Linked DNA regions of Homo sapiens. The protein of the gene in region 1 purifies or fractionates together with the protein of each later gene. This does not show direct contact. Each region holds a gene or a part of one and is shown in the gene's direction. Other genes may lie near its edges.

What was found.
Region 2: the proteins of GAS2L1 (region 1) and KLHL42 purify together in Homo sapiens (affinity purification with mass spectrometry; 3 studies listed by BioGRID and IntAct, with this or other methods). This does not show direct contact.
Region 3: the proteins of GAS2L1 (region 1) and EPN1 purify together in Homo sapiens (affinity purification with mass spectrometry; 3 studies listed by BioGRID and IntAct, with this or other methods). This does not show direct contact.
Region 4: the proteins of GAS2L1 (region 1) and RBM12 purify together in Homo sapiens (affinity purification with mass spectrometry; 3 studies listed by BioGRID and IntAct, with this or other methods). This does not show direct contact.

What each region holds. Positions count from the first base shown.
Region 1 is NC_000022.11:29,309,650-29,313,456, forward strand, and holds the end of GAS2L1 (GAS2-like protein 1), read left to right. Parts: intron 1-789; coding exon 790-897; intron 898-988; coding exon 989-1,085; intron 1,086-1,177; coding exon 1,178-1,349; intron 1,350-1,812; coding exon 1,813-2,848; 3' UTR 2,849-3,138; downstream 3,139-3,807. Other genes in the region: RASL10A (ras-like protein family member 10A), read right to left, coding at 3,652-3,807. UniProt on the Homo sapiens protein: Involved in the cross-linking of microtubules and microfilaments. Regulates microtubule dynamics and stability by interacting with microtubule plus-end tracking proteins, such as MAPRE1, to regulate microtubule growth along actin stress fibers.
Region 2 is NC_000012.12:27,796,365-27,804,783, forward strand, and holds the end of KLHL42 (kelch-like protein 42), read left to right. Parts: intron 1-882; coding exon of another isoform or gene 883-926; exon of another isoform or gene 927-1,350; coding exon 1,351-1,802; 3' UTR 1,803-6,676; downstream 6,677-8,419. UniProt on the Homo sapiens protein: Substrate-specific adapter of a BCR (BTB-CUL3-RBX1) E3 ubiquitin-protein ligase complex required for mitotic progression and cytokinesis. The BCR(KLHL42) E3 ubiquitin ligase complex mediates the ubiquitination and subsequent degradation of KATNA1.
Region 3 is NC_000019.10:55,677,945-55,687,055, forward strand, and holds part of EPN1 (epsin-1), read left to right. Parts: intron 1-582; coding exon of another isoform or gene 583-683; coding exon 684-911; intron 912-7,451; coding exon 7,452-7,701; intron 7,702-9,111. UniProt on the Homo sapiens protein: Binds to membranes enriched in phosphatidylinositol 4,5-bisphosphate (PtdIns(4,5)P2). Modifies membrane curvature and facilitates the formation of clathrin-coated invaginations. Regulates receptor-mediated endocytosis.
Region 4 is NC_000020.11:35,660,971-35,670,772, reverse strand, and holds the start of RBM12 (RNA-binding protein 12), read left to right. Parts: upstream 1-5,872; 5' UTR 5,873-6,013; intron 6,014-9,802. Other genes in the region: NFS1 (cysteine desulfurase isoform a precursor), read left to right, coding at 1,088-1,151.

The sequences.
Region 1 (3,807 bases):
GTGCGTGCTCACCCGGCCAGTGGTCTGTGTGTGCATGTGTCCGATGTGTCTGTGGTACGCCTCCACATCAGTGCCCACCCAGGGGCATGGGGCCCCCTGCACCTGTGTCCTGTAGCCTGCCTGGCCTTCCTGTGGGCCCCAGCCTTCTTGTCTGAGAAGTGGGTGAAGCGGGAGTGAGGACGGGCTCTGGGCCTTCCCCAGGTCTAGGGGCTGTGGGATGTTCGTCACCGGGTCTCAGACCATGGCCTGACCACAGTCCCATCATCTCATCCTGGGCAGCTCCCTGGACCCAGAGAGCCAAGAAAGGGGAGCCGGTGAAAGGTCATGTGTGGGCCGGGCGTGGTGGCTCGCACCTGTAATCCAGCAATTTGGGAGGCCGAGGCGGGTGGAACTCCTGAGCCTGACCAACATGGAGAAACCCCATCTCTACTAAAAATACAAAATTAGCCGGGAGTGGTGGTGCATGCCTGTAATCCCAGCCACTCAGGAGGCTGAGGCAGGAGAATTGCTTGAACCTGGAAGGCGGAGGTTGCGGTGAGACGAGATCGTGCTATTGCACTCCAGCCTGGGCAACAAGAGCAAAACTCCAACTCAAAAAAAAAAAAAAATAAAAAAAAATAAAAAAAATAAAAGAAAGGTCACGTGTGGAAGCTGTACCCCATCCGGGGCAACACTGCCTCCATCCACTTACCCGGAAAGCCTGACTTCCTCCTGACCCTGGAATGGCTGACATTAAGCCCCAGGAGGAGGACTTGACCTCTGACCCCTACCCTCTCTCTCTGGCCTCAGGTGAGGGAGATTCTGGGCCGCTGCACCTGCCCTGACCAGTTTCCCATGATCAAGGTCTCAGAGGGGAAGTACCGTGTGGGGGACTCGAGCCTGCTCATCTTTGTGCGGGTAAGGGCCTGGGGCCGCCCCAGCGGGCAGCAGCCAAGGTGGTGGGCTGCGGGGCGCCCGGGGCACAGCCGTGACCTGCCCACACCTGCAGGTGCTGAGGAGCCACGTGATGGTGCGAGTGGGTGGTGGCTGGGACACGCTGGAGCATTACCTGGACAAGCACGACCCGTGCCGCTGCTCCTCCACTGGTCAGTGCCAGGGTGGGGCTGGGGCTGGACGGGCAGGGGACTTGCTTCTGTGGCTCTGTCCCTCACATGCTGCCTGTCCTCTCTCCCCGCAGCTCATCGCCCACCCCAGCCGAGGGTCTGCACCTTTTCTCCACAGAGGGTGTCGCCCACCACCAGTCCCCGCCCTGCTAGCCCAGTCCCTGGGAGTGAGCGCCGGGGCTCCCGGCCTGAGATGACTCCCGTTAGCTTACGAAGCACAAAGGAGGGGCCCGAGACCCCACCCAGGTGAGATGCAGGAGGACGAGGAGTGAGGGGTCCAGAGGGTGGGGGGGCGTCAGCCCTGGCCTGCATGATGGGTTGCCTGTGCGCCAGAGTGACTCACACCCTGGGAAAAGTTCCCGTGGGTGGGGGCGGGCCTGGCTTCCCATCTCCATGGCAACCCAACCAAACCAACAACACAGCTGGGGCGGGCCCTGTGGCTGGGCGGCAGCCAGTCCAGCTCTTGCTTCCTCTGGCCCGTCCTGGGAAGGGGGGTGTCTAGAGCCCAGGAAACTTCTTCTTCCGTGGCTTTTGGGGCCCTGGGCCGCTGGAGGAAGCTGCTCACTTCTCCCTGGAAGTCCCCAGGACAGACCGATGCCCCTGACAGCCCCGTCCACCAGCCACATACCCTGCTGTTCCTCTCCCTGCCTGTTCTGCATGCCAGTCCTTCCGTGGTACCCCATCTGTCTCTATTGTCCCCCTGCCCCAGGCCCCGGGATCAGCTGCCCCCCCATCCCCGCTCCCGCCGCTACTCCGGGGACAGTGACTCCTCAGCCTCCTCCGCCCAGAGCGGCCCCCTTGGTACCCGCAGTGATGACACAGGCACTGGCCCCCGGAGGGAGCGACCCAGCCGGCGGCTGACCACAGGCACCCCGGCCTCTCCGAGACGGCCTCCTGCCCTGCGCAGCCAGTCCCGAGACCGGCTGGATCGCGGCCGGCCCCGGGGGGCCCCAGGAGGCAGGGGAGCCCAGCTGTCGGTCCCCAGCCCTGCCCGGCGGGCCCGGAGCCAGAGCCGCGAGGAGCAGGCTGTGCTGCTTGTGCGCAGGGATCGAGACGGGCAGCACTCATGGGTGCCAAGGGGCAGGGGCAGTGGGGGCTCGGGCAGGAGCACCCCCCAGACTCCCCGTGCCCGCAGCCCTGCAGCACCCCGGCTTTCCCGGGTCTCCAGCCCCAGTCCAGAGTTGGGCACCACACCGGCCAGCATCTTCCGCACACCCCTGCAGCTCGACCCGCAGCAGGAGCAGCAGCTGTTCCGGCGCCTGGAAGAGGAGTTCCTGGCCAATGCCCGGGCCCTTGAGGCTGTTGCTAGCGTGACCCCCACTGGACCAGCCCCTGACCCAGCTCGGGCCCCCGACCCTCCAGCTCCTGACTCTGCCTATTGTTCCTCCAGTTCCTCCTCTTCGTCCCTCAGCGTCCTGGGTGGCAAATGTGGCCAACCTGGGGACTCTGGCCGGACGGCCAATGGGCTGCCTGGGCCCCGAAGCCAAGCCCTTTCCAGCTCCTCCGATGAAGGCAGCCCCTGCCCTGGCATGGGGGGGCCACTAGATGCACCTGGGAGCCCCCTGGCTTGCACTGAACCCTCGAGGACCTGGGCACGGGGTCGGATGGACACACAGCCAGACCGTAAACCCTCACGTATCCCCACGCCTCGGGGCCCCCGCCGCCCCTCCGGACCCGCAGAGCTGGGGACATGGCATGCCCTGCACTCAGTCACCCCGAGGGCTGAGCCAGATTCCTGGATGTGATGGACCAGCTCAGCTGTCCCCAGACCCCATCCCTTCTCCTTTTCCTTTGTGGCCTTAACCCTTCTGCATCAGGGAGCCCCCTCTGCCTCTTGAGTACCAGACCTCATGGGACCAGACCCCTTGGGACCACATGGCACAATGGGACCTCTGTTGTACATTCCGGTTGGGGGATGAGCGTTGCTATTTAATTACTAATATTATTGAATGCCTTAGAGGAGGCCGGGCGAGCCCGGTGTTCTGAAGACCTGTGGCCCAGCAGAGCCTCTGACAGTAAAGTTTTGCTCCAGCCACCTGTCTGTTTCTTGGGGACTCCACCTTGGGGCCATTCAGACCCTTTCGAGGACCCTGGAGTTAACTGCCTGGAGGCCAAGCCTGGCAACTCTGACCTCTAGGCTTAAGGCGTTATCCCGCCCAGCCCAGAAATCCCAGGCGCACTCAAATTATTTTCCCTTTTATTATCCCGTGGTAGGTGTGGCATAAAGAATATGTCCAGTGAAGCTCCAGGAGCAGGCTGCGTGTTTCCAGTCAAGTTCATAGCCAAGTCCTTTCCATCCAATGGGATTGTGACCCATTGAGGTCCCAGAAAGGACTGGTCATCTCCAATGGAGCTTGGGACCTGGTTGGGTCCAATGAGGTTCAAAAGGGGGCCAGTCGCTTAGGAGACTGGGTTGGAGCTTTCCTCATCCAATCAGGGCGGAGACTTCCCTGTCCAGTCCCAGTGAAGTTGGGCGATCCCGTCCAATCCAGGTCCCTGATTGTCCCAGTCACAAGGTGGGGCCCATGGATGGCACTGTCCGATCGGGTCACATGAGGCTGCAGCGCGCGGGATGCAGCGCCCCCTGCAGGCGCAGGGCCGGGTGTGCAGGGCGCGCGCGCACCAGAGCGCAGCGCAGCAGCTCGCGGAAGAGACGCAGCACGTGCCAGTTGTACTTGGCGGAGCACTCGAGGTAGCCGCAGCG
Region 2 (8,419 bases), on another chromosome or scaffold:
ATGCTGTAGGCTTTAGTCGTCTGCCAGTTCCCAAGCTGAGCTGTCTCCTTCATGGATAGGATTTGTTTGTTTAGAAACAACAACAAAGTTCATTCTGTTTATAACTCAGAGCATTTGTTTTTTCTGCTGAGGCTAAAATACTTGTTTATTCTTTCCTAGAGGAGAAAAGAAAAGAGAACAATTAAAAACAAGAAAAACAAAACTAGATATTCTAAATTTCACAAGCGTTTTTCAAAAAGAGACGAGGCCATATTTTTCCTTAAAGAAAATTACTTTTTTTTTTGAGAGAACAGGATCTCACTCTGTCACCCTGGCTGGAATGCAGTGACATGATCACAGCTCACTGCAGCCTCACCCTACCATGCTAAAGTGATCCTCCCACCTCAGCCTTCCAAGTAGCAGCTGGTACCATAGGTGCACACCACCATGCCTGGCTAATTTTTTATTTTTTTTAGAGACAGGAGGTCTCACCATATTGCCCAGGCTGGTCTCGAACCCCTAGGCTCAAGTGATCCTCCTGCTTCAGCCCACCCAAAGAGTTGGGATTACAGGCATGAGACACCATGCTTGGCCGAAAATCATTATTAATTAAAAATGTCAGAGCAACCTTTTATCTAGACGTTGATCTTATCTACGCTACAACTGTCATCTTGTGAGGGACATGGGAAATGGGAAAAGGGAGAGGGGAGGACCTTTGTTAGTGTCTCTCTGGTGATATAATGGGGAAACTAAGGCTAGGCATGGTAAAGATCCTGTCTTTAAAAAAAAACAAAAAAAAAACTGGAAACTGAATTGCCAAGTGGTTCTGTGGCTTGTTAGAAGGCCGCAGGTGAGACTTTGCTGCCTTTCTCCTGACTTGTAACGTTGTGTCCTTTTCACTAGACAGCCTCTGGAGATCCTGTGTTGCTACTTGTCATGTTTCTTAGGATCAGCTATCAAGAATAATCTACTTGCTGCCCAGCCTGGCTTCTGTATTAAGTAGTCGGTAATTTTGTAGCTATTGATGAGGGTTCTGAGGCACTTACTTTTTTTACACTGACCTGGTGGTTCAAAGGTGTGGGGATACCAGGGAGGAGGGGCTGTGTGAAAGTCAGAGCTGCGCTTTTTCCTGGTTTTATCCAGTCTGAGTCTCCCACGGAAGAGACGTTTGGGAGTGGGAGGTGAGTGCGGATGGATCTAAATATATCTCTTCCCAGCCACTTTGAAAACTGTTTTTCTAACTTGTGCTTTTTCTGAAAGAGTTTTTTCTCTTTGTTACCAAATTATGCAGGCAGAGGTAGACATTTCTGTACAGACTTGCCTAGTGGTGTTAGTGGAGGCGGTGTCATCACTTGTCTTTCTTTCTTTCAGACCGGAACATGAACATTTTGCAGTACTGCCCCTCTTCCGACATGTGGACGCTCTTTGAAACATGTGACGTCCACATTCGCAAGCAGCAGATGGTGTCTGTGGAAGAGACCATCTACATCGTGGGGGGGTGTCTCCACGAGCTGGGGCCCAACCGCAGGAGCAGCCAGAGCGAGGACATGCTCACCGTGCAGTCCTACAACACCGTCACCCGCCAGTGGCTCTACCTCAAGGAGAACACGTCCAAATCGGGTCTTAACTTGACTTGTGCGCTCCATAACGACGGCATCTACATCATGAGCAGAGACGTCACCCTGTCGACCAGCTTGGAACACCGAGTGTTCCTCAAGTACAACATCTTTTCAGATAGTTGGGAAGCATTTCGGCGTTTTCCAGCTTTTGGACATAACTTGCTGGTTTCTTCTCTTTATCTGCCCAATAAAGCAGAAACATGACTGAATTGAATTGGTAGATGAAAAAAACCTGGTTCAAGTTTTTTTTAAAATGTGGTGTCCCATTCCAAGGGAGACCAATTCCTAAAGGGTAAAGAAGGGTTAAAGTAGGTCACATATATACAGTAGCAGCTGTAAATAAGCTTACTTGAACTAATTACTTGAAAACTGGTGGAAAAAAGAGACCAACTTTGTTATTTTTTAAATTATTGATTTTTAAATTATGGGAGCAAATCCATCTCCAAACATGATACTCTTGGGCCAATGACGGATCATCAAAATGTAGATTCATTGTGTCTGTGTGGTAAAGGGCCAAAGTCAATAATTGGGACAAATGGTAAAGATGATTTTAAAATCTGTTGTATTTAGGTCCCTTGACATATCATTAGCACCTTAAGTGAGAGGTTTTCTTTTTCTTATCAGTGTCCTTGACAAGCATTCATATTAACATATTCATTCTCTCTTCTCCATCACCCATACCCACACATACATCTAGTATGTTTAGGGTTCTGTGTTCAGATATTTTGTTTGCACACTACTTTTTAGGAAACTTATAATGATGGAGCCCTACAGTGAATCCTTACCAGTGTTCAGTCCTCCCCAAAACTTGCATAAAAATATTCTTAGCTATTTTTCCAGCCTTTTTTGCAGTTACAAATGCTGGATAAATAGACTGATAAAACCTCTTATTTTATTTATGTGGCAGGTTGCATATTTATGTGGACACATAGGTTGCACTGCTAGGCATTCTGTATTGTTTTAAAGAGGATATATTATTTAGAAAAATGGACATATGAATATTATTAAAAATTGAGTCTTAAATTTAAATGGGAAGGGAAGAAAACACCAAATAAGAAAAAAATTTGCCTTTAAGAGTTACTTTTGTTGAATGTATTTGACTTAGTTCTTATTTTAAGGCTAAAAAAACTTTGTCATATTTAAGTCGGCAGCTTTCTAATTTAATCTTAGCTTTGTAATTCATGTTTTGCTTTTGTGGACTAAGGTAAGGACAGCATTTAAATATTTGTGCTGGAGTGAGGGGAAGAAGCTGTTACAGAAGTGGAATGGTTTCTGGTGGTATTTCTGAAGTTAGGTAAAGTGCTTTACTTGCCTTGGTTGTTAATTGAAATAGAATTCAGCTCAAGCAGTTGTTTTCAGTGAGTGAGTTAACAATAAAAGCTTCTGCCAATCATAGATCAACATTCCTCAAAAATACATACACTCATACTTATGGAAATTTTATTTTGATTGAAAACACTCTGAAATTATCTGATATTTTGTAATGGCATCAGTTAAACTGTGAGCTGGATTCCATCTTTCTGCAGTAACAGCGGGCAGAACCATTTCAGTTAGCATGTGCCTCACTTTAAGAAAGTCCTGTAGGGGAAAAAAAAAACTGTCAGAGCGAATTCATGCATTCAACAAACACTTATGAGTGCCTGGAGTATGCCGTCCACTGTGCAGATGTAGGACAGGGGCTAATCACTTAGAGTTCTTCAGTTTATTAGAGGAGTGACTACAGGTTTTCTTTACAACCATGGCCTCTAGTATACTTAAAATAAGCGTCCAGTTATAAAAAGCCTATTTGCACAACTTTTTGGGAATACTTCTATTAACTAAAATGAGGTAAGCCATTATTTTGGACATAGAAACAGATCTTTGTATCTTGTCACCAAATAATCTTACCTCTAGTCTACTTACAACTTTGTAAGGGTTTCTAAGCTATGCCCATTTATTCCCAAATATTAAGCCCTTAAAAAAATAAAACCTCTGAACCAAAATCTTCCCAGGAATAGTACTTAATAGATTTTAATGTTAATTTATATTCATTGTAGAATTGAATTTCCAGTGACCTGTAATTTCATTACATATATTTTAAAATCTATTTATTTTAGATGGTGTTAACTTTTCGTTGCTGAAGAGCTTAACTTTTTAAAGGCTTTGTCCTATACATTTAGAAGATGAGTCAGTTGAATTAGTACTGGACAAACAGTTGGAGATTAGTTTGCAAATAAGCATATCATATCAAATACAATATTCCAGCCAACCAGTTAATTCTCTTCCTGGTTACATTCATTGGGTCTATTTGCCTAATGTTGACAATTAGATTCTTGGACCAAGTGAGGGTGTACTCTGATCCACAAAGCTCTTTTATAAACCAGGTTTGAGGTTGTGTGTGTGTGTGGGGGTGTGTGTGTGTGTGTGTGTGTATGTTTGCATATTATAGCTCTCTTTAAGACAGACATCTAAAAAGATTTTGGTTATTCTGGGCTGCCAGCAGTACGTGGGAAAGGTGGAATGTGCAATAGGAACAGATCTGTGCATTTTGTGACATCGTCCTTCCTGCTGTGCACATCAGCTGTGATGACATTTTGAGGGTAGTTTTAATTTAGCTCGGTTCTCTTGTTGGTGCCAGTATTACATTGAAGACTACCTATGATAGAGGCAATGTTGCTTTGAAAATCTCCCTTCAGGCGGAGGTTGCAGTGAGCCGAGATTGTGCCATTGCACTCCAGCCTGGGCGACAGTGCAAGACTCTGTCTCCAAAAAAAAAAAAAGAAAAAAGAAAATCCCCCTTCATCCCCCAGGACTGTCCTTTACTCTTTGATAGTATCCCTCTATTTTCTTCCCAATTCTCTAAATGCTTTATCATTTTTTCCTGAGATGCTTCTGAGGGATGCTGACCTCCCACTATGGGGAAAAGGGTTGCTTGGAGGACCTGGGGTGGCAGCCCCCCGACCAGAAGCACCCTATTTTATAGATAGCAGTCTGAATGGTAGAGAGTCCTGTGTGTGGGTTGTTAGAAGGTTGGTTCTTCCTGTTATTCTCTCTGGCTTTCCTTTCAACCCACTTATTTTCAGAGGCCTCTCCCCTTAGCATCCTTTAAAAGGTTTTCTGATGAATGTGTGAAAGAGTTGATTATTTCAACAGTATTGGTTAAGTCACAACGACGAAGTGCTGAGAAGGTTATGGGTACCAGGAAGAAACAAACAGAAGTCTTAAGATTAGAATGAGAACCAAAGAGAATTTAACCCTGCCATTTTTTTTTTTTTAACACCAAGATCCTAAGTAATTCCAAATGCCTTAGATATCAATGAAAGCTACACACCATTGAGATGGGCAAAATTCTTTCTCTACAAAGGGAGTAATCAAGTAAATACCTGTTCTCTTTCAATGGACTGTTGCCTATTGAGCATTGTGGATGATGTGTTTTCAGATTTCCAGGTGAAGTTCTGACCCTACCTGTTTGGCCAAAGACGTAAATTGAGAGGAAAGGCCTTGGTCTTCCTGATCAACCAGCATTTAACGAACAGTGGCTTAATGCAGATCACTCAAGAGGCAGCATAGCAATGTAAAAGGAATATAAGTAGGTGTTGGATGCCTTTTTCCTAGACCAGGAATGGGGAATATATAACACCTGTGCCACCGCTCTTTTAAGGAGGCATTATGAATGAGTGCAGCATTCCTGTCCTCTGTGCCAGGATTTGGTCTTAGAATCCATGTCAGATTGGTGCTTCCAGACATCTATTCCCAGTCCATCAGAGTGAAATGAAGGCTATTTGCCATCCCTGCCTTAGACAGAGGAGTGAAAGAATTAAGTGGGTAGACACCAACCAAAATGACTTTGAAAGCAGTGAGCTGATTGAGCTCCAGTTCTGTGGTTACCAGAAATACTGAGTGTCTGTCATGTGCAAGACAATGCTAAGAACAGAATACAGACATAAATAAGTCACGGCCCATGACCTTGAAGAGCTTACGGCCTTATAAAGAGGTTCACTGTAATTGTCTTCACCAGGGCGTCCTTCTCAAAGATGCCCACTTTTGTCTGGCACATTGGGGCTCGGTGGTCTGGTGGTCCCTTCGGTCTTGGCCCTGTCCGTCCTTTGTTTTTGTGATTTACTAACAATCATCACGAACCAGTTTTGTTTTTCTTTTAAATTTGAACATCACATCTTGTGTTTTAGTTTTTTGCTCTATGATTTTTTTCTCACTGCTTTTCAGTCTTCTCTGTACTTCATTTTTGTGAAAAAGTGAAAATCACATATAATCTTTATTTAAAAATGCTCACCAAGCACTGCAGACTTTGGAGTTAGGGATTCAGCAGCTTGTTCCAGTGAAAAGGAGGAGTGAAGCTGGGGAAGTTAGTATCTAAGAGGGGCAAGCTGATTGCATGTGCATTTATACCTATGCCTTTAAAACATTCCCATAAAAAGTATTAATAAAGAAATTTCCATTCCACACTAGTACTGATGAAAAGGTGGTTGATTTTGCCTTGTGATAATTATCAAAGGATAGTTTTTCATCCTTAGATTTTATTCACATGAGAGATTTTTTTTATTTTCTCTGTTGACTTAGGAACACATCATAAATTCACACCAACTGACACGTTGCTGACGTCTGTACTTGACATAACCATTTTTATTCATACAGGAAGCATTAAATATAAAAGATGGTCAGTTTTGAAGAGCAAAGGGTGCTGAAATGACTTGTACGGTTGGCTGGTGCTTTCTCAAATGGATTGCCATAGTTCATTACTAGTAAAGAAAAGGAAAATGTGATTTACGTTGTCATTTTTCCTATTAAAAAAAACCCTTAAGAATGGGGCACTTGAGCTGTCCCTGCAATGTTTTCATATCTAGTAGTCATTTTAGGGAAAGTGATAATCTGTAGAATGAATAGTTATGTTTTGATATGACTGATACTTTCTTTGTTAAAAGGTTGTATTAAGTCTTCAATTTCAAGTCTAGCTTAAAAGTGTAAACATTATGTGATTCATTTGAATACAAGAATGCCTATGAAATACCCACTATAACAGCATTCCTTTTGTGTTTAGAACTATAGAAGAAAATGTCTTCAAATAAAGTAGTTTTCAGTCACTTTTTGTTATCTAAGTTCTATGTATCAGTTACGTATGCAGGGCTGTGCCAGGACTGGGAGGAAATGGGTGAAGTGACTTGGGAGCCTGAGGTGGGAGGATTGCTTGGGGCCAGGAATTTGAGACCAGCCTGGGCAACAGTGAAATCCTGTCTCTACAAAAAATAGAAATAAAAGAAATTAGCCGATACAGTGGTGCATGCCTCTAGTCCCAGCTACTTGGGAGGCTGAGGCAGGAGGATTGCTTGGGCCCAGGAGTTTGGGGCTGCAGTGAGATCTGATTGCACCACTGCACTCCAGCCTGGGCAGACAGTGCAAGACCCCAACTCAAGAAAAATGAAATAAATGGACAACCATTTTCTACACACTCAGGACACACTGATGGAGGAGAAGGAGGATGGCTGACCTAGCAGAGCGACACCCAAATCTAACTGAGCACTTTTTTTTTTCCCAGGAATTATTCTAAGCATTTTTTATTTAAATTATTTAATCCTCACATGAATCCCATGTGGTAAATACAAATATCCTCCGCTTTACAGTTGAGGAAACTGAGGCACTGTAGGTTACAAATTGCCACTTGAGAAAGAGGAGAAGGGAAAACTACATACAGTGGTCACTGGTTTAAAGGGTATCCTTTCTCTTGCTAGTGGAGGAGTGGGTTTCCGAGTGAGCCAGTCTGGGAGCCTCTGGTCCTGCTTTGCAGCAGCGCGTTCCATGGCTGACCTGCCTGGGGGTGAAGTGGCAGCCTCTTCCTGTGGGCATGGTTACAGGAGGTGTGTGGAGGGGCACCTGAACACTTCTGTTGAGGCCAGGGATCCTAGGCTCCTGTTTGTAGGCCATCAACATTTCCTTGGCAATAAAACTTTAAAAACCCATTTGAGGCTGGGCACGGTGGCTCACACCTATAATCCCAGCACTTTGGGAGGCTGAGGTGGAAGGATTGCTTGAGCCCAGGAGTTCAAGGACAGCCTGGGCAATACAATGAGACCCTGTCTCTATTAAAAAAATAAATAAATAAAAACTCAGATGCTGGTAAATCTGATCTCCGGCAACTCCATAGGATAAAGGCCCAGATTTAGAGGAGCCCAGTTTCTTTAACTTAGAGCCCATCTTTATGATGTCTGTCTCTTAGCCACAGGCTTCCTGCCCATGCCTCCACCTTCAGTTTGATGGCGTCAATCTCTCTCTTAGCTTTGGGATAATCTGAAACCATAGGGGTCTGCCGTTCCCAGACTACATCCCAGGGACTGCAGCATTAGTAGAAATGATTACCTCTGTGTGGCAGGAGGTGTTTGGGGAATAAAATACCCACCCTATTTCCTCTTCTTCTTCTTCCTCTTTTTCTCCTTCTCCTCCTTTTCCTCCTCCTCCTTCTCTATTTTTGGAGACAGGGTCTTGCTCTGTCACCCAGGCTGGAGTGCAGTGGCACGATCTCAGCTCACTGCATCCTCGGCCACCTGGGCTCAAGTGATCTTCCCACCTCAGCCTCCTGAGTAGCTGGGACCACAGGCATGTGCCACCACACCCAGCTAATTAAAAATTTTTTTAAAAAAAATTTTTATAGAGATGCGGTCCCGCTATGTTGCTTAGGTTGGTCTCAGAAAACGATTCTCCCACCTCGGCCTCCCAAAGTGCTGCGATTTACAGATGTGAACCACTGCGCCAGGGCCCCCACTCTATTAGTTTGCCTCCTCCGGGAGCCCGATCTTACTATATTTCTGGCTGTTCATGCCCCTTTAACTAAG
Region 3 (9,111 bases), on another chromosome or scaffold:
TCTCTGCCCCCATGGGGCCTGTGGGTTGACCTTAGCTACAGAATCAGACGAGAATATAAAATCATGAGGGAGACTGAGTTTACTGATGAGGCCCCAGGGATAGGTGACTGTGATGTTTGGGTGTGCACCTGGGAAGTGTAAGCAGAGCCCTTGGGGTGAGTGGATATCCCTGGATGAGGAAGAAGGAAGAGCGCATGGGCAGGACGGAGGGCCTCCTGATGCGCTGCCGGTGTTTACAGGGCGTCAGTTCTCTAGATGACCGCATGGAGCCCCATTTGACAGAAGAGAAAGCTGAGGTGCAAAAGATCCAGCCCGCCCAGGGTGGCCTTGCCAGGAAGTGCTGAGCCAGGTTGTGGGGCTGCGATCTGCCACTGCATATACTCTGCCTCACTGAGCAGGGGCCCCAGCAGGAAGGAGGCAGCCTGTTTGAGGAACTGAAACATGGATGGGGTTACTTTGAGACCTAGAGGTTAACAAGGGACAGAGCCTTCTGGGCCACAGTTAGGAACTCATCTTTGACCCTGAGGGCTCTGGGCAGGCCATGTCCCATTTGTGTTTCCAGAGGTCCTCTTCCCCTCGCAGATGCGGTGACCTGCCAGCACCTGCCGCAGCCTTCGTCCGGGAGTCGCCCCATCTCTCCACGCATCGGGGCCCTGTGCCCCTTGCTGCTGCAGCCGGGCACCATGTCGACCTCGTCCTTGAGGCGCCAGATGAAGAACATCGTCCACAACTACTCAGAGGCGGAGATCAAGGTTCGAGAGGCCACGAGCAATGACCCCTGGGGCCCATCCAGCTCCCTCATGTCAGAGATTGCCGACCTCACCTACAACGTTGTCGCCTTCTCGGAGATCATGAGCATGATCTGGAAGCGGCTCAATGACCATGGCAAGAACTGGCGTCACGTTTACAAGGTCAGCATCCTGCTCTCCTCCCCGGGCAGGTGCAGGGGCTCAGGTGGGAGGACAGGAGCCCGTGTTGTGCACCCTGCCTGGGATGGCATCCCGGTTCTCAAGAGGAACTGGAGAAGAGTAAAATCTCTCTTTTTGTTTAATGAAGGCAACGAATATAAGGCTAAGAAGTTTGGAGCCTTGTGGTTAAAATCTGTTTTTGAGTGAGTGGTGCGTACGTAAGATTCATGTGCTGAGGAGGCCTGAGAGGGCCCACGGTGCCCATCTCTTCTGTGTGCCCAGACACCCAGTTCCTTTCCTCACAGCAGCCAAGTTTCCGCTCTGGGCCCCATCTATGAATGCCTCTCAGGCAGGTGTGTGCTCCCCGTGGCACAGGCGATGCCACGCTGGGGATGAACGCTGTCGTGCCTGTGAGCAGGACTCAGCGACTGGGTTTTCAGTTTGCTGCTCTTGGGGTCCAGGGGCCTTGGCATCCCCACCTTTGGTCTTTGGTTACTGTGTTCCTCGTGTTACGGCAAAGTGGCCAAGGACATGGGCTGGGGCCGGGTTATACTCCCAGTGGCGGGATCTCAGGCTCGTCCCTGAATCTCCCTCTGTGAGGGCCCATGGAGCCGATTCACGTCTGACTTGGGGCAGGGGCTGGTGAGTGTTAGACTCCTGCTGTTGCGGTCCCGTCGGCAAGCATCTGCAGAAGGCCCGCTCTGGGTGTCTTGGTGCACCAGACCAACAAGGCCCCACCCTCATGCGCTTAGACCTGGGCCTGCTCTGGCGGAGGTCCCTGTCCTTGCTGATCTTTGAGACTTCTGCCTAGGTGAGGGTGGTTCCCTCCACTCACAGATGAGGAGGCTGAGGCCTGGAGCGTTGCAGCACTTACACATGGGAGCAGGGGTTGAGGCTCGTTTCCTGTGACTCGTTTTCATACCCATCCCGACACACCAGGATTGGGTTGAGTCATAGATTGAATCAGTTATTGGTCATTTATTGTGAAGGGCTGGGTGGCGTTTGTTTAGTTGAGAATCTTGGAAAACCCTGGAGGTGCAGGTGAGCCTCTCTGGAGGCAACGAGGAGGGATGGGGCTGGAGGGGTGGGTGTGCAGAGGGGATGAATCCAGAGGGGCCCCAGACGCACATCCTTCCTGGTCAGTGGCTGGGGTGATGCTGCTGGGGGCAGACACAGAGTGGCCTGTGGGCAGGGCTGGCAGGTGCCAAGGCCTGAGAGTCTGCTGGGGAGCATGTGGTGCTGGCAGCCAGGGTGGACGGCAGGACAGGGCAGTGCAGGAGAGGGGACGTGGCCTCCAGTGCCAGGCGGGGCTTGGGCTGCTTTACTGAGGTGTAATTTGCACACAGTGAAACCCAGCCTTTCGAGATAGAGTTCTCTGGATTCTGACAGATGCACATATTTCATAACTGTCATCACAGTCAAGGCATAGAAGGTTTTTGTCACCCCCAAGACCTCCCCTATGGTTTTTGCAGCCCCTCTGGGACTCTCCCCAGGCCTGGCTGTTCCTGCTGTATCCGCCATCCCTGCAGCATCTCTTGATTCTTGGGACTCTCCTTTCTATGATCCCCACAGCAGAGCCTGTAGGATCCCCAGCCCATGTGGCTGAGGACACGGGGTTCCCGCTCCACCCTGAACCACTGGTTCCTCATGCTGGGGTGGGGTTCAGCCTCAGTTCCCCGGGGGAGGGTTGATGGCGTCTGGAAACCTGCTTTGGTTGCTGCTTGTGCTGCCTGCTGGACACTGTCCTGAGAGCAGCTTTGTGAGGTCAGCACGTGTCACTGTTGTCCCTGCTGCGGCATGCGCCGATAGCTGAGCATAGGCACAGGGCAGGGGTCCAGGAGGGGGTCCCTGGGTCCACGTCTAGCCAGCGCCTCCCTTCCTGGCTGACCACTTCTATCCCGCAGTCCCCTTCTGGAAGTACGGGTGATGAGGACAACCCCACAGGCCCAGAGGCCCTGAGCCACTGTGAAGCTGCTACACCCCCTTTGGCCCTCTCCGGAGCCCTCTGTGCTGACCTGTTCTGGCATGAGGGCGAGTCCTCTTGCTTCTCACCATCCCTTCGCCACATGGTCTCATCTTGTCACTTCAGCCCCAGGTGGTGGGTTGTGCAGGAGCAGTCTTTCCACTTTGATGGATGGGGAAACTGAGGCCCAGAGACGGGGGAGGTGGCCTGCCGAGGCTCGTGGGGGAGCTGGGGCTTGGGCCCATCTGTTCAGAGCCCAGGCTGTCCCACCCTGTGGCCCTGCTGGCTGGCACTTTGTGGGCCTTATTGTCCCCGTGGAGAAGGAGGGTGAGCTGTGGGGGCCTTGCAGGCCTGGCTCTGCACGGCCTCCCTGCATGGCCTTGGGGGTGAGTATTGGTGAGTAAGGGCCGGCGTTTATTTGGTACCTTGTACGTGTAGCACACACAGGTTCTCATGAAATCCACGGTTACCCTGTAAAGGAAGTTCTTTTTCTCCTTTTCCTCTGTTTTCCAGATGAGGGAACTGAGACATAAAGGAGCTCAGCTCTACCTCGCAGGAGGTGGTAGAGCCAAGAGGAGCCCCGAGCCCACCCTCTGGGCCCTGCACTGCCACCTCACTTCTGAGGAATGCAGGGTCTCAGTCTTGGCTTTAAACCAGGGGTCAGCAAAGTACAGCCCACTGGTGAAATCCCACTCACAGCCTGTGTTTGTAAATAAAGTTTTATTGGAACACAGCCAGGCCCATTCATCTGTGGCTGTGAAGTAGTTGAGACAGAGAGTATATGGCCTGAAAAACTGAAATGTTTTTCATCTGGCTCCTTACAGAAATGTTTGCTGATCCCTGTTTTAAACTTTATTTCTGCATTGCAGGATGTCCTTGATAAAGCTGTCTTTAACATTAAGAAGGACTATCATTTTATGCAGTTGCCCACTGCTTTTTGGTTGTTTTCAGAAAAGCAAAGGAGAAATAATGACTTATTTTGCAAACTTTTTTTTTTTTTAACTTTTTTAGAGACAAAGTGTTGCTCTGTAGCCCAGGCTGGAATCCAGCAGTACAGTCATAGCTCACTGAGCCTTGACCTCCTGGGCTCCAAGCATGGTTGAGGAATAGCTGGGACCACAGGCACACACCACCATGCCCGGCTAATTTTAAGATATTTTAAATTTTTTTGTAGAGATGGCAGTCTCACTGTGTTGCCCAGGCTGGTCTTGAACTCCTGGGCTCAAGCGATCCTCTTGCCTTGGCTTCCCAAAGGGCTGGGATTATAGTCATGAGCCACTACACCTGGCCCACTTGCTCACTTCTAAAATAAGGTTTTAAATTTTTCATTAAGAAGTTGTATACTAAGCACATCATGAATGTATAACACAGCTGTTACGCATGTGGACACCTGTGTAGCCTTCACCTAGAGGGAGGTAGAGGATGCATTCAGCCTTCCAGGTTTCCTCAGGAGACCTGTCTCCCACAGCACCGTGTCTGATTTCTGTCTGCCAAGACTGTTCTTGAGCTTTATATATGTGGAGTCACACGCGTGGTCTTTTGTGTCTGGCTTCTTTTGCTCACCATCACCATCAGGTCAGCAAGGTTGACCGTGCTGTTGCATAAAGCAGTTGTTCATTTATTTTGAGAAAGTCTCACTGTTGCCCAGGCTGGAGTGCGTTGACATGTTCTCGGCTCACTGTAGCCTCTGCCTCCCGGGCTTAAGCAATCCTCCTGCCACAGCCTCCCAAGTAGCAGGGATGACACGCATGTGCCACCACGCCTAGCTAATTTTTTGTTATTTTATTTATTTATTTTTTTAGAGCTGGGGTTTTGCCATGTCACCCACGATGGTCTTGAACTCCTGGACTCAAGCGATCCACCGACTTTAGCCTCTCAAAGCACTGGGGTTACAGGATTTTGCCACTGCACCCGATTTTATATATTTATTTAATTATTGTTTCTTATTTATTTATTTATGAGACGGAGTCTCGCTGTGTTGCCCAGGCTGGAGTGCAGTGGCACCACCTCGGCTCACTGCAACTTCTGCCTCCCAGGTTCAAGCAATTCTCCTGCCTTAGCCTCCCGAGTAGCTGGGATTACAGGTACTTGCCACCACGCCTGGCTAATTTTTGTATTTTTAGTAGAGATGGGGTTTCACCATATTGGCCAGGCTGGTCTCGAACTTCTGACCTCGTGATCCGCCCGCCTTGGCCTCCCAAAGTGCTGGGATTACAGGTGTGAGCCACCGCGCCCAGCCTGTTTTTTGTTTTTTCTTGAAATGGAGTTTCGCTCTTGTTGCCCAAGCTGGAGTGCAGTGGTGCTATCTTGGCTCACTGCAACCTCTGCCTCCCAAGATCAAGCGATTCTCCTGCCTCAGCCTCCTGAGTAGCTGGGATTACAGGCGCATGCCACAATGCCTGGCTAATTTTTTGTATTTTTAGTAGAGATGGTGTTTCACCATGTTGGCCAGGCTGGTCTCAAACTCCTGACCTTGTGATCTGCCCGCCTTGGCCTCTCAAAATGGTAAGATTATAGGTGGGAGCCACCATGCCCGGCCTTATTTATTTATTTTTAAATGGAGTCTCACTCTGTCTCCCAGGCTGGAGTACAGTGGCGTGCTCTTGGCTCACTATCACCTCTGCCTCCCTGATCCACGGGATCCTCCCACCTCAGCCTCCTGAGTAGCTGGGATTACAGGTGTGCACCGCCACACCTGGCCAGTTGTTTTGTGTTTTTAGTAGAAACAGGTTTCATCATGTTGGCCAGGCTGGTCTCGAACCCCTGACCTCGGGTGGTCCACCTGCCTCAGCCTCCCATAGTGCCGGGATTATAGGCGTGAGCCACCACACCTGGCCTCATTTCTCTTTTATTTCAGTGTATGTGGTAGTCCCGCTGTGTGAGCGTGCCATAGTTGATGTATGCATTTCACTGTGCGTGGGTATTCGCACTATTTCCTGCTTCACAATCTTTTTAGCTGCGATACCAAAGTCCAGAGAGCTCTGGAAACGAAAGTGTTTCATGATCCGTTCGGCACAAAGTCTGACCCAGACTGAAGTGAGGTCGTTCACATGGTGTCTGTTGGTCCCACAGTAGTGTGGCTGTTGGCACGACTCTGCCCAGCGCGTTCTCTTATGTGTTGTATGTGCGTTATTTTCCTGGTCTGAACTCAGGAAAATTCTGAATTCCAAAACACAAGGGCCCCAGGAGTTGTGGACCTGGGACTGCCTCTTGGCTTGGGGTGTGATCAGGCATAGCAATGGCTTACCTGCTTTCCTTTCTTTCGTGTAAATACCTTGAGGGCCGGTTAAAGACTAATCTCTGATTACACTGTAAATACTGTTAACACACCTTTGAAAGGCCTTGCCAGAGCTAGGTCCAGCTGCCTCAGAGGGTGAGGAGATATGAATGGCCCTGGCATCTTTCCTGGCAGATTTCTCCTTGGTTCAGACGGAGCTTAGCTGTGATAGCTGACTCTTCCCCTAGGAGCCCTGGGTGGGTTTCTGTGGCTCTGTGAAGGCCCTGGAATCCCCTGCAGAATCAAAGTTGTGCCTTTTTTTGAGGTCAGTGACCAAGACACCCCCTGCAGAGCCTTAAGGGGGCCATGACTCCTCAAGCCCAGGACTTGAGCCTGAGCTAGGGAGAGCCTCAGAGACCTTGGTCCCCCCGCCCCCACTATTAATTTCAACTTGTTGAAAGGGAGTTTGTTTTCGTATTATAAAATACAAACATACCAAAGGGTGCAGATTGAACGATAATGTTCCCTCCGCCCTGTCCTTTTGCTCCTGGTGGTGTGGAACCTGGGTGCCCCTCCCAAGAGAGCCCGGGCCTACACAGGCCCTTGCGTGGATCTCTTCCCTTCTTGCAGAGGTGATAAACTACTGCTCCAGGCTGTTAGTACCAGCGTGAGGTTTTACAGTCAGAAATACACATTTCAAACTAGTACTAAGACCCCCTTCATTGTGATTTAACTAATGTGGTTTTCTTGGCCATGTTACTTTAGATTTTAGTTGTAAAGAAATAGACAGGGCTCCAGGATGCCAGGCGATGCCCATGGCGGCTGTGGTGCCTGTAGCTGCCATTTCCTCTTTTATTTGGATTGAGATGGAGCTCCTACACTGTGCAGCCCCCTTCATATCGCACAGTTCAGTGGCCTTCGGCCCATTCACAGTGCTGGGCGACCACCTCTGTCCAGCTCCAGAACGTCTTCATTGCCCCAGAAGGAAAACCCATAGCCTTCAGGTGGTCCCTCTCCATCCCTCCCTCCACCCCTGGCAACCCACAATCCACTCCGTCTCTCTGGATTTGCCCATTCTGGATGATTCACGTCGATGGAACCGTAGGCTGTGTGGCGTTCTGTGCTGGCGTCTGTCGCTGAGCGCAGTACCTCCGCGGCTGGTCCCCGTCACAGCGTGGGTCTGTGTTCATTCCTTTGCATGGCCGTGTCGTATTCTGTGGGGACAGATGTGTGTCCACCCACTGGCGACAGGTGGGTTGTGGGCCTTGCGCCCAGTCGGCCGCCCCAGAGCCCGCGTCGCAGGCAGTCTCTGGCCCGCCTTGTGCCCGGCGTGCTGACCGGGCATCCCCGTGCCCGCTCGCAGGCCATGACGCTGATGGAGTACCTCATCAAGACCGGCTCGGAGCGCGTGTCGCAGCAGTGCAAGGAGAACATGTACGCCGTGCAGACGCTGAAGGACTTCCAGTACGTGGACCGCGACGGCAAGGACCAGGGCGTGAACGTGCGTGAGAAAGCTAAGCAGCTGGTGGCCCTGCTGCGCGACGAGGACCGGCTGCGGGAAGAGCGGGCGCACGCGCTCAAGACCAAGGAAAAGCTGGCACAGACCGCCACGGGTGAGTCCCTCCCTGCGGCCCCTGACGGCCTAGAGTCTGTCCTCCGCCTACTGCGGCTCCCGGCACCCGGCCGCCCACTGCTTTCTCTCCCAGCCAGGAGGGACCGCGGCATCCCCCTTTGCTTCTCCTCACCTGGGCCCCTTGCTCTGGTCTCACTTGGGCCCTTTTTTTCCCTTAGCACCTCCCATGCAGCAGCTCTGGGACCCTTCCTGCCTCTTGCCTCGTGCCCCAGGGCAGGCCTAGAATTGGGAACTTTTATTCCGCTCCCCCATAGGCTCAGGGCCTGAGGGTGATCAGTGCTGGGGACAGGGCTCTGAGGGGACACGCACAGTGACCCCCGAGGGTGCTGTCCTTCTCTCTGCGCTGAGATGAGGGGAACATCGGAGAGGCAGAGGGGGGCCTGGAAGAGGCACAGAAGGAAGGCCAGAGCCAGGGCCTGCAGGTTGCACCAGGCATCTGGGCCTGTGTTAGGAGCCTTGACAGTGCCTTCTGGAGGTGGAGGACTCAGTCTGGTGGGTGGTGACCAGCACCGAAAACAAAACTTGAAATAGTGCATCCCACATCGTCAAGCCAAGATCTGTCCCACGAAACATTTCCAGTTATGTGATGGGTGTGTGGGTCTCGGACTGTTCCAGGAAGTGTGGTCTGTGTTGGTCGGGGGCTCACAGCCGTGAAGAGGCTAGTCCGGCTGCTCAGGACTGGGAGGGAGGCTGGAGAATGTCTGCCAGGCTCTTCTGCTCTCCAGGAAGAGTGGAGGTGCCTCAGTTAGTGGGGATACGTGGGATGGGGAGGGGCTGCTAGAGCACTGCCCTGGAGGTGGAGGTGGGTCAGCCAGGCCGGTGCAGACAGGAGGAAGGGCCTGTGGCCCTCGTGGGGTCCGGCTCGAGGGACTGGACTTGTTTGGGGAAGTCTAGGCCTTCTGTTTGGACGGGTCTCATTTGGGATCACCTTTCAGCACCCACGGGGAGACATGGGTGTGACGGGGTGTGTGCGACCCTGCCTGGGACTCCAGAGTAGGGACCCACGAGCCAGTAGATGGGCGTGAACGCAGAGAGAGAGTGAAGTGGAGGGAAGGAAGCCGGTGTGGCGTGGGAGTGCTCAGAGCCAGGGACAACAGGAGGGAGTGTAGGCGGCAGAGAGGGGCTGGTCAGCTCGAGGCAGGCAGGCAGGCAGGTGGGTGGCGGGGTTGGGGTGGACGGAGGAGGGACATTGGCAGTAGCTCGGAGGAGAGTGGGAGCCTCAGGTAAGAGGCCTGAGGGTGGGACATCCTGGCTCGGGGGTCGTCAGACTTTGTGCAAGGCCAGAGCTAATGTCCTCTGCGTTGCTGGCCACGCCTTCCCATCCTAGCTGCCTGGCCCCGTCCGCTGGCGGTTGCTGGGAAGCAGCTGCACCCCTCCGACACTCACCAAG
Region 4 (9,802 bases), on another chromosome or scaffold:
ATACTCACAAGGCATTTCTACTGACCACGTGGCCAGCAAAGCCTTTTGTTTCCTATCTATGTGGCTTCGGCATCTGCACCCTATTCCTTCTGACCCTTTACAAACTGAATGCAGCCTGGTCCTATTAGCTCTCAGAGTCTTATTTTGTGAGCCTATAATAATAAGTGGTCTTCCCTAAAGAGGAAGGACAGGAAGGAGATGGCTAACTTTAAGGGCCATGGAAAATCTCATGAATAGAAAGGCATTCTGGGAATGTTTAGTATATAGAAGAGGGACAAGTCAAGAATATAATGAAATTTGATAAAATTACCTGGTGAAATCTAAACTGTAAAATCCCATATTCATAGCACACTGAAGTAATATCTGGTCTGGGAACATTATCCAAGATATCCAAGCTTCTGCTTGGGGATCGATCAGAGCTTAGCAGAGATTTCTTAGCAGCAGCTCTTGTGTGAGATGGGATGCTCAGGTCTAAGATCCAAGGAATTCTTTTGGATTAGACCCAGGGATATTGGAAGCACAGGCCAACTCTGGGGAGATGAAACGGGCAAGAACTGGGTAAGGGTACAGCATACCAAGATGATGTAGGGTTAAGTTCCACCCCTAACTGGGAACTAGAACAAAACCAAGAAACAAATGCTGAAAAGCGGGTAATATGTGGTGGGCTGAAACGAGCTGCTTATACATGTCATATGAAGAGAGGCTTAAACTAGATGTTTATACAAGTCTCAAGGGTCTTGGTTCCTCCAAGGGAAACCATGGCCATAGCCTCTTACCAGTGGGATGAAAGCTTCAAGAATATGACCATGTTTGGTGTCCATTGGCTCAGGGCCCCACTGCAATTGAGCCTGAGGAACCTAGTTATTCCTGTTAGCAGTTGGGGAGAGCTCTCAGGAGAGCTGACAAGGACTTACAGGGAGCTGGAGAGCTCAGGATACCTTAACCACCTGTGTTAGGGTCTACCAGGGCAAGAGGCAGAGGACAGACAGGGACAGAAGGAGGCAAGCCATTGCTCAGAGCCTTGGGGCCAATGTTGTCGACTTCCTATCTAAGCCCTCACTCATTTAATGCCTCTTCTCTTTGGCAGCCCTCTCTGGGAGATGGTTCAGGATGGCATTGACCTCAAGAGCATCAAGTGGACCCAACACTAGAAGAATAGGGCCCTGACTTTGTGCTGGTCTGGCCCCTCCTGCCTCACCAACCCGTGCACAACCAGACACCTTGTTACACCTAGTGGATGCTCTAGATTGGTATAGACCAGTTGACTTCAGCATCAGTCCACCTCTATGACAGAAACACAAGAAAACTGTCTTTCCCTAGCTTCAGTTCCTTGGGTGTGGAGCACTCCCCATTTCTTCTCGGGTCTTAAAGTGTGTGGACATTTTCATCCCGAAGCCATAGAGACATTTGCTGTCATATTGCTGCTGGGCACATCTGTGCTCTTGGTGAGGAGAGCAAGAGGAACCAGAAGAAGTCTCTTTGGTCAGGGACCATGATGCTCTACATGGACATTTGAGTCTTCGTCTTCTGCTGCTGCTCGGCTGGACCAGCTTCTTTAACAGCAAGCATAATCCACTTCAATGTAATATTTTCTGTAGCTCCAAAGGCTATCTCTTCATATTGACTGCAGACAGACTGAATGGACAGTTTCTTAGAGGGCTTGTCTCCTTTCTACCCTTGTCCTCTTTCCTTTCCTTTGACCTAATGGAGCTAGAAATATGTCTGTGACTCCACCAGTTATTCTAATAATTTGTTTTCTTGAAAATTGTTAATTTCAAGACTGGAGAAATAAACTCACCTTCTATTTACTCTGTGACTTTATGAGAGGTTGAGGGAAAAGTGGAAGCTGTACTTGGGAATTGTGGAGAAGACCGCCACTCCATCTGATTTGCATAAATGACTCAGTGGGCTTTTGTATCTCTTCATTTAAGAATTATTTGAATGCCTGCCAGGAGCCAGATTTGTTCTGGGTATTAGGAATACACTGGTTAACAGGACCAAAAAAGACCCTGCCCTCACTGAGTTTTAAATTTTAGTGGAGAGATGGAAAATAATTAAACAAATAAACAATGTTATAGATTGTGATAAGTGCTATGAAAGAATTAAGTGGTAAGAGGACATAGCAGGGAAAACCTACCATGCTGGGTGTTTGAGGAAAGTTTTTCTGAGGAGGTAGTGCTTATAAATATGAAGAGCTCGCTAATCTAGAAATGAGAGGTGAGAAGGAATGGCAAGAGCTAAGGGCCTGAAGTGTGATAAAGCACAAAGTATTATACTTTAGAAACCAAGAGAAGGCCATTGTAACTAGAGCTTTTCATTTGTGGGTCTGAACCCATAGGTGGGTAGTTACCAGTACTTAAAAAAGGAGATAGTATGTTAGAGTACATTTATGCATATTTTAAGAATATATTTTGATGATATATTTGAATTTGTATACCAGGTTATAAATGTATTTCTTATTGTGGATAATGGTCAAAAAAGTTTAATTGCTTTTCATACTTGCCAGTAGCAGGGGGACAGGAAAGTTTGAAAGCCACTGGGCTAAAGTTTGGTAAATGTAGATGGACAGTGGAAGGAGGAGATGAAATTATAGAATTTTTCTTGTTGAAAAATATCTTTTTTACTTAGAATAATTTTAGATTTACTGAAAAGTTGCAAAGATAGTAGAGTTGTAGATCTATTACCAGTTTTCCTCTAATTAAAAAGTCTTACATAAAACTATGCTAATTTGGCTGGGTGTGGTGGGTCACACCTGTAATCCCAGTACTTTGGGAGGCGAAGGTGGATGGATTGCTTGAGCTCAGGAATTCAAGACTAGCCTGGGCAACATGGCAAAACCTTTACTCTACAAAAAAATACAAAAATTATCTAGGCGTGGTGGTGCCCACCTGTAGTCCAAGCTATTTGGGAGGCTGAGGTGGGAGGATCGCTTCAGCCCGTGAGATCAAGGTTGCAGTGAGCCTTGATCGCACCACTGTATTCAAGCCTGAGCGACAGAGTGAGACCCTGTCTCAAAAACAACAATAGGCTGGGTGCTGTGGCTCATGCCTGTAATCCCAGAACTTTGGGAGGCTGAGGTAGGCAGATCACGTGAGGTCAGGAGTTTGAGACCAGCCTGGCCAACATGGCGAAACCCTGTCTCTACTAAAAATACAAAAATTAGCTGGGCATGGTGGTGGGTGCCTGTAATCCCAGCCACTTGGGAGGCTGAGGCACAAGAATAGCTTGAACCCTGGAGGCAGAAGTAGCAGTGAGCCGAGGTGGCAGTGAGCCGGGATGGTGCCACCACACTCCAGCCTAAGCAACAGAGCAAGACTCCGTCTCAAAAAACAAGGCCAGGCGCGGTGGCTCATGCCTGTAATCCCAGCACTTTGGGAGGCGGAGGGAGGTGGATCACGAGGTCAGGAGATGGAAACCATCCTGGCTAACACGGTGAAACCCCCGTCTCTACTAAAAATACAAAAAATTAGCCGGGCGTGGTGTCACGCACCTGTAGTCCCAGCTACTTGGGAGGCTGAGGCAGGAGAATTGCTTGAACCTGGAGGTGGAGGTTGCAGTTAGCTGAGATTGTGCCACTGCACTCCAGCCTAGATGACAGAGTGAGACTCTGTCTCAAAAAAAAAAAAAAAAAACAACAAAAGAAAACTATGGTACATTTGTCAAAACTTAGAGGTTAACATTGGTATATTAGTATTAATGAAACGTGATTTTCTAAAATTATTAAAGATTTTTTTATAGAGACTGGGCCTGTGTTGCTCAGGCTGGTCTTGAAGCAATCCTCTTGCCTCTTGGCCTCCCAAAATGCTGGGATTACAGGTGTGAGGCACTATGCCCGGCCTAAACTTCAGATTTTATTCAGCTTTCACCAGTTTTCCTGTCTTTTTTCTGTTCCAGGATCCAACCCTGGATGCTACATTGCATTTAGTAGGTTTTGTTTTTAATGGACTATGTTTTACCTACACAGAGCAAACCTATAAAAACCTATAAAGCATAGGTTTAGTTTAACAGTGTGGCCTGGTTTTCCAACTTGCTGTTTTTGGCATACTGGGCTAGCACCAGTCCAGTCTGCCATAGAAATCCCGAAAGGTTGTTGGAATTGTGATAATTTCAACCTTTTTTTTCTTTTTTTTAAGTGATAGGGTCTTGCTCTTGTTACCTGAGCTAAAGTGCAGTGATGCAATCATAGCTCACTGCAGCCTCGGACTCCTGGGCTCAAGGGATCCTCCTGCCTCTAACTCCCGAGTAGCTAGGACTACAGACTTAAGCCACCACATCCAGCTTTTAATTAGCAGGGGCATGAAGTTCGGGGGGCTAGGCCCAAAGCGGCTTGAGAACAGCTTTCTTTTTTTTTTTTTTTGAGATGTAGTCTCGCTCTCCTGATGGTCTCCATCCCCTGACCTCGTGATCCTCCCACCTCGGCTTCCCAAAGTGCTGGGATTACAGGCGTAAGCCACCACGCCCAGCCAGAGAATAGCTTTTTCTATAATAAAATAATACTATAGTGAAGCCGTGGAGGGGTCACGATGGATTTAATTTTTTTTTTTTTTTTGAGACGGAATCTTGCTCTGTCGCCTAGGCTGGAGTGCTATGGCGTTATCTTGGCTCACTGTAACCGCCACCTCCCGGATTCAGGCGATTCTCCTGCCTCAGCCACCCTGGTAGCTGGGACCACAGGCGCCAGCCAGCACGCCCAGCTAATGTTTGTATTTTTAGTAGAGACGAGGTTTCGCCATGTTGGCCATGCTGGTCTTGAACCCCTGACCTCAGGTAATCCGCCCGCCTCGGCTTCCCAAAATGCTGGGATTACAGGCGTGAGCCACTGCGCCCTGCCCTAGATTAAAACTCTTTTTTTGTTTTTTTTTCTGAGACGAAGTTTCGCTTTTGTCATCCAGGGTGGAGTGCAATGGCGCCATCTGGGCTCACTGCAACCTCCACCTCCCGGGTTCAAGCGATTCTCCTGCCTCAGCCTCCCAAGTAGCTGGGACCACAAGCACCGCCACCACACCCAGCTAGTTTTTGTATTTTTAGTAGAGGCTGGGTTTTGCCTTGTTGGCCAGACCGGTCTCGAACTCCTGACCTCATGATCCGCCCTTCTCGGACTCCCAAAGTGCTGGGATTATAGGCGTGAGCCACCGCGCTCGGCCTGTATAAACTTTTTTTTTTTTTTTTTTTTTTTTTGAGATGGAGTCTTGCTCTTTCGCCCAGGCCGGAGTGCAGTGGCGCAATCTCGGCTCACTGCAAGCTCCGCCTCCCAGGTTCACGCTATTCTCCTGCCTCAGCCTCCCGAGTAGCTGGGACTACAGGTGCCCGCCACCACGCCCGGCTAATTTTTTGTATTTTTTAGAAGAGACGGGGTTTCACCGTGTTAGCCAGGATGGTCTCGATCTCCCGACCTCGTGATCCGCCCGCCTCGGCCTCCCAAAGTGCTGGGATTACAGGCGTGAGCCACCGCGCCCGGCCCCCGGCCTGTATAAACTCTTAAATGGGAAAAAAGAATCAGGTTTTGGCTGTTTTGTCAGGATATAATAACTAGCCACCACGTTGTGGTCCATTTAATCCTCAAAAAACTTAGAGGTAAGCACAATTCGCTCCTTCCGCGGAAACTGGAAGACGTGAAGCAATTTGCACAGTCTTGCAGTGAAGGGCCAAGCTAGACACTCATACCCAGCCCACCCGCCAGGGCCACTAGCCCAAGGTCGGTCCTGTGCGCCAACAGTCGCAAGCAGGGACTGAATATCCCCCTCTTAGCACAAAACCCAGTAACTTCCGGGAGATCGCCCGAGACCGTCAGCGCGCTTGCGCGGCCCCTTGACGTCAACCACGCCGTTCCTCCCCCTTCTGGAACGCGGAGCCGCTGAGCGGGCCGACGGCCATTTTGTGAAGCGGCGAAGGAGGTGGTGGCTGCGTTGGGCTCCGGGAAGCCGTTCGGGCTGGGGCTGTCGGCCGCGGGGCGGAGGCACTCGCGCGGGGGGTAATTCGGGGTCTGGGTTCTGGTGCCGCGCAGCTTTCCCCGGTAAGACTCCCGCAGCCCCTGAACGGGTGGGGCTGTGCGGGGCTCGTGGTGCCCCTTGGTGGCCCGGGGCGGGGCCTTCGGAGGCCTTCGAGCCCGCGGCAACTAGCGCCCCACACAAAGGGTCGAGGCAGGGCTGCAGGGGGAGTGGGATGCCACTTAGGCCTCTGAGATCTGAGAGGATGCAAGGAGGACGCAAGAGGATGAGCCTGCGTACCGAAGTGGGGACGAGGCCATAGCGAGGACTCCCCCGTGGTCTGAGAGGGGGCAGGCCAGAGCTGGCTGGCTCAGCGGCCTGCGAGCTAACGGGGACTGCAGTAAAAACACGCCTACATCCCGAGTACGGAGGATTTCTTGTCTCCCCCAGTGAAGCAGAGGTTATAACTACATCTCTGTGCCTGGAGGTGGGGAGATAATCGTAGTGAGGACACTCCTTCAACCCGAAATGGAAAGGAGGCCTTTGTGGCCTACCAGCAAAAGGGGACCCAGGTCACACCTGTGGGGAGGAAGCTGTAGTCGGTACACTCCTGTGAGTTCAGAAAGGAAGTGTCACAACCGGCCGCCTTCGTGGCCTGAAGGTGGAGGGGTTTGCAGTGAAATGCCTCCGAGGTCCATTGCTGGGGAGGGGCTTTACTCGAGGGTGTAGCAGTTTTGAGAAGCCGGCGTCTGAAGCTAGGAGGTGAGGGGGTGGGGTGAGTACGCCTCCTGAGGCTCTGAGAATTGTAGTAAGATGCCAGGCCTTTGGTCCCCCAGTAGGGAAGGGGCTGCTGTGAGCAGCACATTTACGGCTCCCTCGGGAGAGGATCCTGTGGCATTTCAGGAGGACGAGATCCAGTGGGCTGCGGAGGGTGGGTGCTTTTGATGGAGAGTTAATTGAGTTTCTCTGAAGCTTGGCTGCATTAGTTTGCAGCCACGTGAATTGGGTGGTGGGAGGGACTTTGAGGATCTACAGGTTAGTGACGGGGTTGGACGCCAGTGCAGCAGGCTTAGCTGCTAGGTTGTAAACGTACGGGCTTTTTGTGTGCCTCCAACGTGTGCTTTATAGTGACAAATCTGAGGGGCTCTTGTGAGGGTTACTCAGTATTAAGTGCTAAACATTTACTCATCTGCGTGGTGTCATGCTGAGAATTGCAGACTTTAAGAGATTTCTGGGCCCTAAAACCCTCCTTGGCTCCAGGATTCTCAGAGATAACCTAATATAAATTGAAGAAGTTGGTAGGGACCGTTTTATATTATTCAATAATAGAGTCAGTATAACCCACTGGAAAAAAGTGTGATGGCAACTGAAGGTTTGTTGAAGGGAGAGGCTAGGCTTGTGACTGCAGTATTTTAGAGCTTCTTGCTTGAATGGTTTGAAATGGTGTAATTTTTGCAAAATGCAGTCTTAGCAACAAGAATTGTCTGGGACCTTGTTAACTAGTGTATATTGTTAATGCATCTCAGAGCATTTGCAGTCGAGAAAAATCCCTCAAGTCTGGACACATAGGGAAATCTTGTTTTTTAAATTATAGAACTACAATACAAGACTGGTTGTACTTGTTTTTGAAATTTGGCAGTTTTGATAAGAATGGAGGATTTCTGGATTTAGTGGAAAGTGTGCAGACATTTTCAAAGAGTATAAAAAGTTGGGAAGAACTGTTACAGGTGGTTCAAATAACGTTATGGTAATTTATGAAGAAAGTGAAATGTTTGGCGTGTTTATACAAAACAATGAAGATGTGCTTAGTATATATTATTGGACAGATTTTTAATGAAACAGGGAATACATTTTTATATATGCTCGATTAAATGTGATTACTTTGCTTATGGATTGTAATGTATAATTTTCATTTTCTTTATGTTCAAATCTGTTAGATGAAAAATGTGAAGCTTTAGAAATAATTGTGTGGTTACTTGCAACGTATTGTTACATGCTAATACCAGTACTCTTTGGGCTTCTTTCACCTTCTTTGACACGTCAAATGTTTTGATGATTGAGTATTGAGAGTTTGGGAGTTGTTAGTACAGTCTTTAGGTGTGAAACTTGATGTTGTGGGCCAGTGTGTTCCAGGTGCTGGAATCCAGTGACAGTGTTGATAGTTTTTACTCCATTTTGCAGAGAGCCATTCTGTCATTGTATGAATGTATGTTTTCTTCTGTAGATGTTGTAGGAAGAACCAAGTGTCAGTAGTTGGTTGCACAAAAGATGCTTTTAGATGTCCCTCCCTAAAATGCAGAGACTGATGATGTCCACTTTTATATCTTTTGTCTGGCCCACAAGTGCTTAATAGTAAATGTTCATGGAGTAAAGGAATATTGTTAAATGTTTTCAACTAAACAGAAAAGATAATTTTATCTAAACTACAGTTTTATCAGATTTTACTACCACACCCATATACCTTTTGGTTTGCACAAAATTTAATTAAGTTTAAAGCCAGCTTTTAAGACTCAAAAACAGAGTGAATGTGGTTGTTTAGGTTAGAAGTATAATTTTGCTCTGAAGTGAAAATGAAGGTAGCAACATTTTTGTTGGCATTTGGGGGGATTGAAACATAACTTAATATTTTTGACAGGAGGAATATCTTATTTAGAAATGTCTTCTGATTTGCTGCCTTTGAGTACGGAATGGAGGTTAATGGAAAAATTGAGTAATGCGTTATAAAAAGTACACATCTCCATCAGTGTCAGAATAATTTTTTCATTAAGAGTGATCCCAGACTTTGATATATGGTCCATTTGGGAATGGGGAACAAAATCAAGTGGCTGAAACTGTGGTTGTTTCATAATGTTTATTATAATGTGATTATACTGTTTTTAGCATTGTGCCCGTTGTGATTGGTTCTCTGTTGCTAATCTCTGAGGTGAACATTTGAGAGTTTGTTTCTTTTGGATCTGAAGAACCTAGCTCTGCTGTACCCTGGTTCTTGTTGATTAAAGAGTGATAACTGAACAAAGTTAAAGTTCACTTTTGGATGTTTACTACCAGATGAAGAGTGAAAATAGTCGTTTTAGTTTGTGCCTTGACTTCTTGATGAAGAGATTTGTTGTCAGACATTTTTTTCTGAAATTCCAAGTGATTAGAATGGCTAGTAAATACGAAAGTCTGTCTTGCCATAATATGTTAAATTTTTGTAGCAGATACTTGTGATTTGTGCATGCATCCGGTATTTTGTCAAGTTGAAGCAAGCCTTTATGTTAGGACTAATTCCTGATAATATGAATGGAAAACATACTAAAGCCAGCTTCTTGTTTTAGATCTTCTGAAGTATATCAGTGGCTTTAATGACAAATCAGGCCCATTTTCTCCTTTCCTATCATTATGCTGTATGTATAGATAGAATATGTATTTTAGATGTTTTATTGTTTAGTTATTATTTTAGTCTTATCCTTCTAAAGTTCAGCAAAGCTTTAGGTAAATGGCGTGGATTTTTGAAATCCTGCATTCAGTCGCTAGCTGACATTTAGAATACAGGAATAGTAGTTTCCTGGAAAACAGTGACACTTATGTTAAATTCTTGTGGTTTTTACAAAGTGAGGTGTCAACACAGAAGTATTTCAGTTCTATTTCCATTTACCTTTCCCTTTTGAAGAGGTATAATACCAAGGGTTGTGAAGTTCTGACTTGTAGCATCAACTTTCTGCATGGTTTTCCTTGGTATGGGGTGGGGTGGGTATTCCTCTTTGCTGAAATAGAAGAGAATCATAAATTTCTATCTGGATTGATTTTGTGCTTTAAGTTGTACACATAAAACTTGAACTAGGCATTTGTCAAATTCAGCTGGGCCTTTCAGCCTTGCCTTGTGGAATGAGAAA